Linked DNA regions of Homo sapiens: region 2 is linked to region 1. Evidence: fine-mapped expression QTL. Tissue or cell type: unexposed skin. Region 1 holds a variant in brackets; the other region holds the start of a gene. All regions are shown on one strand. Distances are between the middles of the regions.

Evidence for each region. PIP is the estimated chance that this variant, and not a neighbour inherited with it, causes the effect.
Region 2: it holds the start of ARMC10, and the variant in region 1 is fine-mapped to the expression of ARMC10 in unexposed skin (GTEx, PIP 0.95).

What each region holds. Positions count from the first base shown.
Region 1 is chr7:103,507,614-103,512,764 of GRCh38, forward strand. It overlaps RELN (reelin), which reads right to left. Exons shown (of 65, transcript NM_005045.4): 51 at 3,238-3,392. The region is part of intron 3 of SLC26A5-AS1 (SLC26A5 antisense RNA 1); the gene reads left to right. Among named protein-coding and RNA genes, the nearest start is that of SLC26A5, 64 kb to the left of the region's middle. The variant A/G (reference allele first, on the strand shown) is at 2,326.
Region 2 is chr7:103,072,240-103,077,390 of GRCh38, forward strand. ARMC10 (armadillo repeat containing 10) reads left to right here and starts at 2,901. Exons shown (of 7, transcript NM_031905.5): 1 at 2,901-3,172; 2 at 3,538-3,642. The coding sequence starts at 3,034. It overlaps FBXL13 (F-box and leucine rich repeat protein 13), which reads right to left and starts at 2,557. Exons shown (of 21, transcript NM_001394494.2): 1 at 2,457-2,557. The coding sequence starts at 2,531. RefSeq lists a silencer at 2,488-3,327 and an enhancer at 3,598-3,647.

The DNA.
Region 1 (5,151 bases):
TTAAAAGAACTAGAGAAGCAGGAGCAAACACATTCAAAAGCTAGCAGAAGACAACAAATAACTAAGATCAGAGCAGAACTGAAGGAGATAGAGACACAAAATACCCTTCAAAAAAATCAATGAATCCAGAAGCTGGTTTTTTGAAAAGATCAACAAAAGAGATGGACCACTAGTGAGACGAATAAGGAAGAAAAGAGAGAAGGATCAAATAGACACAATAAAAAATGATAAAGGGGATATCACCACTGATCCCACAGAAATACAAACTACCGTCAGAGAATACTATAAACACCTCTATGCAAATAAACTAGAAAATCTAGAAGAAATGGATAAATTCCTCGACACATACACCCTCCCAAGACTAAGCCAGGAAGAAGTCGAATCCCTGAATAGACCAATAACAATTTCTGAAATTGAGGCAGTAATTAATAGCCTACTAAACAAAAAAAGCCCAGGACCAGGTGGATTCACAGCTGTATTCTACCAGAGGTACAAACAGGAGCTGGTACCATTCCTTCTAAAACTATTCCGAACAATAGAAAAAGAGGGAATCCCCCCTAACTCATTTTATGAGGCCAGCATCATCCTGCTACCAAAACCTGGCAGAGACACCACAAAAAAAGAAAATTTCAGGCCAATATCCCTTATGAATATTGATGTGAAAATCCTTGATAAAATACTGGCAAACCAAATCCAACCAAGATCAAGTTGGCTTCATCCCTGGGATACAAGGCTGGTTCAGCATACACAAATCAATAAACATAATCCAACATATAAATGACAAAAATGCCATGATTATCTCAATAGATGCAGAAAAGGCCTTCGCCAATATTCAGTAGCCCTTCATGTTAAAAACTCAATAACTAGGTATTGATGGAACATATCTCAAAATAATAAGAGCTATTTATGACAAATCCACAGCCAATATCATACTGAATGGGCAAAAACTGGAAGCATTCCCTTTGAAAATAGGCACAAGACAAGGATGCCCTCTCTTAGCTCTCTCTCTTATTCAACACAGTATTGGAAATTCTGGCCAGGGCAATCAGGCAAGAGAAAGAAATAAAGGGTATTCAGTTAGGAAAAGAGGAAGTCAAATTGTCTCTGTTTGCAGATGACATGATTGTGTATTTAGAAAACCCCATCGTCTCAGCCCAAAATCTCCTTAAGCTGATAAGCAACTTCAGCAAAGTCTCAGGATACAAAAATCAATGTGCAAAAATCACAAGCATTTCTGTACACCAATAACAGAGAGTCAAATCATGAGTGAACTCCCATTCACAATTGCTACAAAGAGAACAAAATACTTAGGAATAATACAACTTACAAGGGATGTGAAGGACCTCTTCAAGGAGAGCTACAAACCACTGCTCAAGGAAATAAGAGAGGATGCAAACAAACAAATGGAAAAACATTCTATGCCCATGGTTAGGAAGAACCAATATCGTGAAAATGGCCATACTGCCCAAAGTAATTATAGATTCAATGCTATCCCCATCAAGCTACTATTGACTTTCTTCACAGAATTGGAAAAACTACTTTAAATTTCACATGGAACCAGAAAAGAGCCTGTATAGCCAAGACAATCCTAAGCAAAAAGAACAAACCTGGAGGCATCATGCTACCTGACTTCAAAGTATACTATAAGGCAACAGTAACAAAAACAGCATGGTACTGGTACCAAAACAGTTATATAGACCAATCAAACAGAACAGAGGCCTCAGAAATAACACCACACATCTACAACCATCTTGATCTTTGACAAACCTGACAAAAACAAGCAATGGGGAAAGGATTCCCTATTTAATAAATGGTGTTGGGAAAACTGGCTAGCCATATGCAAAAAGCTGAATCTGGATCCCTTCCTTACACCTTATTCAAAAATTAACTCAAGATGGATTAAAGATTTAAATGTTAAGACCTAAAACCATAAAAACCCTAAAAGAAAACTCAGGCAATACCATTCAGGACATAAGCATGGGCAAAGACTTAATGACTAAAACACCAAAAGCAATGGCAACAAAAGCCAAAGTAGACCAATGGGATCTAATTAAACTAAAGAGCTCCTGCACAGCAAAAGAAACTATTAGAGTGAATAGGCAACAGAATGGGAGAAAAATTTGCAATCTATCCATCTGACAAAGGGCTAATATCCAGAATCTACAAAGACCTTAAAGAAATTTACAAGAAAAAAAAAACATCAAAAAGTGGTCGAAGGATATGAACAGACACTTCTCAAAAGAAGACATTTATGTGGCCAACAAACTTGAAAAAATGCTCATCATCACTGGTCATTAGAGAAATGCAAATCAAAACCACATTGAG[A/G]TACCATCTCACACCAGTTAGAATGGCGATCATTAAAAAGTCAGGAAACAACAGATGCTAGAGGGGCTGTGGAGAAATAGGAACGCTTTTACACTGTTGGTGGGAGTGTAAAGTAGTGCAACCATCGTGGAAGACAGTGTGGCAATTCCTCAAGGATCTAGAACTAGAAATACCATTGCACCCAGCAATCCCATTACTGGGTATATACCCAAAGGATTATAAATCATTCTACTATAAAAATACATGCACACGTATGTTTACTGCGGCACTGTTCACAATAGCAAAGACTTGGAACCAACCAAATGCCCATCAATGATAGACTGGATAAAGAAAATGTGGCACATATACACCATGGAATACTATGCAACCATAAAAAAGATGAGTTCATGTCCTTTGCAGGGACATGGATGAAGCTGGAAACCATCATTCTCAGCAAACTAACACAAGAACAGAAAACCAAACACCACATGTTCTCACTCATAGGTGGGAGTTGAACAATGAGAACACATCGCCACAGGGAGAGGAACATCACGCACTGTGGGGCCTGTCGGGGAGTGGAGGAGGGATAGCATTAGGAGAAATACCTAATGTAGATGACGGTTTGATGGGTGCAGCAAACCACCATGCCACATGTATACCTATGTAACAAACCTGCATGTTCTGCACGTGTATCCCAAAACTTAAAGTATAATAAAAAAAGATGAAAAAAAGTTTCAACTTGAAATAGTTCAGAAATAAAATACTTTTAATCATTAAGCAATGTATAGTTGAGTTGTATATTAGTTTAATAGTAAATTTTACTTTTCAAAGTATATACTAAGTCAATGAAATATTAGATCATCTTTTCTCTGATATTTTTTGTTATATTGCTAATGTATGGTTGTTTATATAATCAAGATCATAACATTTCACCTTGAATTGCATAATCCAGCCTTCAGTGGGAGTCAGGTCATGGGTCACTGCATACACCTCCCGTCCATCATGACTGCCACAGAGCATCACACCATCAGGGGAGTCACAGAATCTTTCTACTGTACAATCATCATGGAATAGCCAGTGCTCATTCACTTAAAACAAAAAAACAAAATTTTATGACAAATTTGTGACAAAAATACTTGAAGCAAATTTTCACTTTAAGCAAGACATAGAATTATTTTAAGTAGAAACTGCTCATATTATATACACTCTATAGACAAAACACTAATATAAATACATTGTTTCAGGAACATAAATACTAGGAGGATTGAGATATATGCCCTTTGTCTGATATTAGTACACACACAACCATAGATATTAGTCTACACATGAAAAAAAGTATATTGTACACATTGTAAATGAAAATCAAAAGGAAATAACTAATTTTTTGACAGATATTTAACTTTTTAGATAGCATATAAAGAAGTAGAGATGATTTTTAATTTTAAAAATTTTATTTACAGTGTCTCGTTTATTAGGAAAGAATCATGAAGAATCACAATTGCACTGGGCTGGTCATTTTATTTTATTTTTTTTAATACCGGATAGGGAATAGAGTTAACTACTACTCACATTCTGAAAGTATTATCTGGGTAACTAAAAAGCTTGTAATGAATTTTTTATAGCTTTATCAAGATATAACTGATATACAAAAATGACACACATTTAAAACATACATCTTGGCTGGGTATGGTGGCTCATGCCTGTAATCCCAGCACTTTGAAAGGCTGAAGTGGGAGGATCGCTTGAGGCCAGCCTGGGCAACATAGTGAGATCCTGACTGTTAAAAAAAAAATTAGCTGGAGTGGTGGTGCACGCCCATAGTCTCAGCTACTTAGGAGGCTGCTTGAGTCCAGGAGTTCAGGGCTGCAGTGATTTGTGATTGTGCCACTGCACTCCAGCCTGGGCAGCAGAGTGAGACCCTGTCTCTAAAAAATTTGTTTTAAAAAATGAAATATACATTTGATGACTCTGGAAATATGCACAACCCATGATACTATCACCACAAGCAGGGCACCAAATCGATCCATCACTTCCAAAAATTTCCTTGTATTCTTTTGTGTGTGTGGTTTTTAGTTTTTGTTGGGGGGTTGCTGTTTAGAACACCCAACAAGAGACATATCCTCTTAACATATGTTCAGTGCACAATATAATCCTGTCAACCATAGACACTATGTCATACAGCAGATCTCTAGAACTTATTTCTTTTGCATGACAGAAACTTTATAGCTACTGAAAAAGTATTCATTTCCCCTTTCTCCAGATCCTGGCAACCACCCTATTTAATTAGATAAACAAATGATTTTTGAGTTTAAGAAATGAGTTTATAACAAACTTGTTATAAAGGCTAATTTTAAGTCCTATAATGTGAAGCCATGTTTAATTTGGCCAAAAGTAAAATAAAATCTTATTAAATAGATTATTTAAGAAATTAGGATTCTAAGATAATACTGTTATAAATTTACCTTGGTAATGTTCTTAATATTTGATTATTTATGTATGGATATTCAAGTATTCTGGATAGATATTTCTTTTAATAAGTCTTGACTCCTAAACCTGATTAACAGTTAACACTTTGAGGAAATGTACTCATCAAGATACTACTGAAGAAATAGATTTGAAGGTGTCTAAAGAAAACCTAAGTAGTAAGACTATGAATTGATTAATGCAGAGTACATCTTGTGTGTTGATCCTCTCTCTCTTTCTCTCTTAACCCCTTCCTCCACAACCCTCACAGTTCCTTTTCTCTTCTGGAAGAGATGATTTTACATTAATTTTATCCCAGAAAAGTTAGAAATTAAACATATCCATAATATATGTTGCATCTCATTCACAGTATGCTTTGATTTT
Region 2 (5,151 bases), 440 kb before region 1:
AGACAGGATATGAGGCAGAATGGAATTCATCTTGATATTCTCTTAGAAGAAATGGGTAATGAGTTTAAGGTGGGTGTGTGGGGCCCAGAGGATTGCTCCTTTGCACTTCCTGCTAGTGTGCTAGCAGAGGTGAGTGAAGGACTCCTCAGGAGAACATGATCTTAGACAATGGAGAATGCATATAAGGGCCTCCTCTATGGGTGCAGAACAATGCAGTAAGCTGGTAAGGAAGGAATGCTTTCACCCAGAGGGGGAACTGGGGACTGCCTCATTGCAGCTTTGTGATGTTATAGTAACTGGCGGCCTAGATGAGAAGAGGCCATCCCTTCCTTGATGTACCCTGACTCTCAACTCAAGTCCATTTCTGCCACCTGCTCCACCGCCATATCACAGACTGAGCCATCACTCAGAATGGCTGCACCCTGAATTGTAAATATAAACGTTCCACTTTCTGACCCCCACCTCCTGTGTTTCCAGCTCCCTCACTTAATTACTCCCTCTACTTCTCTTCACTCACCTCTTAGAGGAGTCTTCACTTTCTGTCCATGTATCAGTATGATATCCTTTTCTCATTTCCCACTGAGTCCTTAGAGTCCTTGGCCCATCACTTCAGATACTCAGGAGCTTAGCTCCCTAACCTACTGCCTTTCCATTCTATTAATATATGCCTGGCAAATTCCTATCCCAGACGAAGTCAACTTGGTTATCTCTGTACCTACATCTGATTTACTGACTGCTACTTGAGAAAATCACACAACCGGGAAGATGGGTACCATTCTCCCTACATATTTTCAAGCACAATTGTATAGAGGTACAACACAAAACTCACTGTAATAAATTAAAACAATACAGCTATGGACAGAGTAAAAAGTTAGAATTCTCCATCTTTTCCCCCAAAACCATTCCACAAGACATCTGTTATTAACAGTTTGGCATAGGTTCTATGCATGCACTATTGTCTTAAAGCTAGATATATACACATATATGTACATAAACACATATACAACATATATGAAATCAAATGGACAGCTAGAGCAGAATGGACAGTTGCTAAGCAACTTGCACTTTTTCTTTTTTACTTAATAATATGTGTTGGGAGCCAGCCATGTGGTGTATGCCTGTAGTCCTAGCTACTTGGGAGGATGAGGTGGGAGGATCAATTGAGCCCAGGAGTTTGAGGCTGCAGTGAGCTAGGATGGAGCCACTACACCCTAGCCTGGGTGGCAGACCAACACCCCGTGTCTCAATAATAATGATGATAATAATAATATGTCTTGGAGGACATTTCTTCTTAGTAGGTACAGATATACTTTATTCTACATAATGCCTCATTCGCTTAGTCACTCTAGGTCATTTACTATTTTTACTATGAAACAAAGTTATAATGAATATCCTTGTACATCCTCCTGAACACATGTGCAAGTATTTCTCTAAAGTAGATCCCTAGAAGTAGAAATGCTTGGTTAAAGGGTACATGTATTTAACATCTTAATAAATATTTCTCAATTACCATCCAAAAAAGAGACGGGTGGGGGGTCTCTACCAAATTGCCCTCCCAACCGCCTAGGAGCGTTACTACCCTCAGGTAGGACCTCCTCTTTCTTTCCCTAGACATCTCTCTCCCTCATTCTCCACATAACGTATCTTTGCTCGAACCTCCTACTGCACCAACATCCCCATCCCCACTCAAACACGCACATTCTTGGTAAATATCTCACCAACTATTTGTAGAGAAAAAAAGAGGTCAACAAAGGCAAATGTTCTCAGCTTCCTACCCCCAAACCTACAAAACCTAATGTCTATCCCCTTCCTGTCTTCCTTCCCTACTCTTATAACGGCAGTAGGAGGGCAGTCCTTCCTGTTGTCTAAAGGCAATCCTGGTTGAGAGGGTCCTTACCTTCACAAAGGGCTGACTACACTGACCAAAGGTCTCAGCTTCCACTCTTCCCTCCGCTAACCTCCATCTATTTTCTGCCCTCACGGCTCCATGGAAACCTCAGGCTCACCTTGGGCAGAATCCAGCTCCTTATCTTAGGTGACTAGTGCCTACTCCCTACTTCTGACAACATTCTTCATAATGCCAGTCTGCTGATTTTCCTCCTCAGGCTCTCTGGCACTTCTTTCTCACTCCTCCACTCCTCAGGTACTTCTTGTCCAAACCTTAAAATCTGAGTTTGGGGTTTCCGATCTGGGCCTTGTGCTCATTCCCCCTGGGAGATGTCACCCATTCCCCACGTGCAGCCACCATCACCCTCTGTTTTCTCTCTAATCAGCGTCTTCAGCCCTGATCGCCTACAAGTCCGAATTTGACTTCACTTTCTCGCATTCTGCCCCGCCTTCCCTCCACTCCTCCCCAATCCCGAAACCTAGTCCCTCCTCCGGGAAGTCTTTCCTGACTCCTCCCCCTTCTAACTCCCCACCGACGGTCTGTGTCCGCTGCCACGCGTGTCCAGTACCTCGCAGACCTGAGGAATGTAGTTCTCCTTGAAGTAGTTCTTCAGCCTCGGGTTGGCATTGCGTAGCGAGGCCATGGCCCAAGGCCTGACGGAGAAGCTGCGATAGTACCCTCCCCGCGCTGGGACTAGGGGCCGGGCGCGTGCGGGCGTTGTCCCGGCAACCAGGGGGCGGGGCTGGGCGTGGCACCGCCCCGCGCTCCGCTGCCAGGGGCGGGAGGGAGGAATGGTTGCTTCACGCCCCGGGGGAAGAGACGGGAAGCTCGGCTCTGGGTTGCGGGCCCCGGCGTCTCCGCGTGGGGCGCACCGTCCGACCCCCCCCTCCCGGTGTGCAGCGCCCCGCACCGCCCCGCCTCGCCTGGGAGAAGCCGCCGGGACGCGCCGGGCTGGAGTGGGCGGTTATAGGCTTTGAGCTAGGCCGTTTCCGGGAGGCGGAGCTCAGACCCCATTTCCTTTCTCCACATCCAGGTCAGGTGGCGTTTGCTGTGGCGGCTAGGCCCGCGTGCGCTGGAGACCTCCGCGCTGGCCCCCGCGAGCCTCCTGCCCTGGCCCGGCGCTGCGGCTCTGCCGCGGCGGCAGCATGGGTGGCCCCCGGGGCGCGGGCTGGGTGGCGGCGGGCCTGCTGCTCGGCGCGGGCGCCTGCTACTGCATTTACAGGCTGACCCGGGGTCGGCGGCGGGGCGACCGCGAGCTCGGGATACGCTCTTCGAAGTCCGCAGGTGGGACCCCGGGGTTTCCGGCAGGTGGGCGGGGACTGGGCAGGGGGGCTCCCCAGGCCGGGGTGGTGGCTTGCGTGTGCTCGGGGTAAAATGAGGAGCCGAGCTAGAGGGAGAGGCAGTACTTGTGTGAGTGCAGGGTGCTGCGCCGCCCCCGCCGCCCCTTTGCTGACTATACTGGTATGAAAACTTGCCCTGGCTTTCCTGCCTGAGCTCCGCGTCACAGCGGAGGATTAGATTTCTTAAAAACCTGTTGATGGCCTCTCATTTTAAAGCTTGCTCCGGGCCTTTGTGTAACTAAAGGGATTCTCCCGATTGTGGAAGGGCTGTTGAGGGGCCCAGAGCCATAGGTCAATCTCTGCTTGCAGGTGCCCTGGAAGAAGGGACGTCAGAGGGTCAGTTGTGCGGGCGCTCGGCCCGGCCTCAGACGGGAGGTACCTGGGAGTCACAGTGGTCCAAGACCTCGCAGCCTGGTGTGTGTTTTGGAAATGGGAACAGTTGTCTGCGCGAGACACACCCTCCCAGCGGACAAATGCATGATTCGGTTTCTGTCCAAAAGTTGATCGGTACATTAAAACCCTCCAAAGGCATGTTTCACATCATGGAAGCTGTTAGGGAAATAATTTAAAATATCATATCTGCCATCCAAGAAACTCCTGTCCACAATTGTAGAAGAGAGCTAAACAGCTTCATTGTTGAATAAGCACAAACTAAATTGCCTCACACATCACGGGCAATTTGCTAATGGGATAGCAGGAAGAATTCTAATTCCTTTAAATGTAGCTGGACAGATAGAACCGATTTCATATTACATACGTGTTCTCAAGATAAAAAATAATTTGTCCTTAGGTAAGAGGACTTGACAGTACCATTTGCTACATGTAGTTTATCCTGAATTTACTGGTAATTGGGGTGGTTGTTATCTAATTGCCTTTATCCAGAGGAAAAATAAAAATATCTTTATGATGTGGAACCAGGTGCCCAGGCTAAAAACTCACAGAGTTGGGGAGATTGGGGATCTATCTTCCTGGAAGAGTAGGTTTCAAAGAGTACGCTTTCGAACAGTAGGCTCCAAAGCTTTTAAGAAAGTCTTTCTTGGGCTGTAAAACTGGCCAAATGCTTATTTCACTTTTAAAAAGATTTACAGGCTGGGTGTGGTGGCTCACACCTGTAATCCCAGCACTCTGGGAGGCCAAGGCAGGCGGATCATGTGGTCAGGAGTTCAAGACCAGCTTGACCAACATGGGGAAGCCCCATCTCTACTAAAAATACAAAAATTAGCCGGGCTTGGCGGTGGGTGCCTGTAATCCCAGCTACTCAGGAGGCTGAGGCAGGAGAATCACTTGAACCCAGGAGGCAGAGGTTGCAGTGTGCCAAGATTGCACCATTGCACTCCAGCTTGTGCGACAGAGCAAGATTCTGTCTCAAAAAACAAAAAACAAACAAAAAGATTTACATTTGTATCAAAGAAGCAGAAAAAGGAGTTTTGTTTTGTTTTCAGACAGGGACTCCCTCTGTCACCCAGGCTCGGTGCAGTGGCGCAATCACAGCTGCAGCGGCGCAATCACAGCTGCAGCCTCCACTTCCCTGGGCTCCTCCCACCTCACCCCACTAAGTAACTAGGACTACAGGTGCACACCGACACCTGGCTAATTTTTCCAATTTTTTAGGAGATGAGTTTTCACCATGTTGCCCAGGCTGATTTGAACTTGGCTTAAGCAGTGCTCCTGCCTCAGCATCCCGAAGTGCTGGAATTACAGGATTGAGCCTCCTCACCTGGCCAATAAAGGATTTTTAATTACAAGTTTGCACGAGGGAATGCTTTAAGAAAAAGGGAGTGGAAGGGGAAGGTCTCTCTCACTTTTGCCACTAGGTATAATTCAGCTTTTTTTTTTTAAAGATTTGTATGTACCCTTACTGTATTAGTCCATTTTCTGTTGCTTATAATAGAATATCTGAAACTGGGTAATTTATTAGGAAAG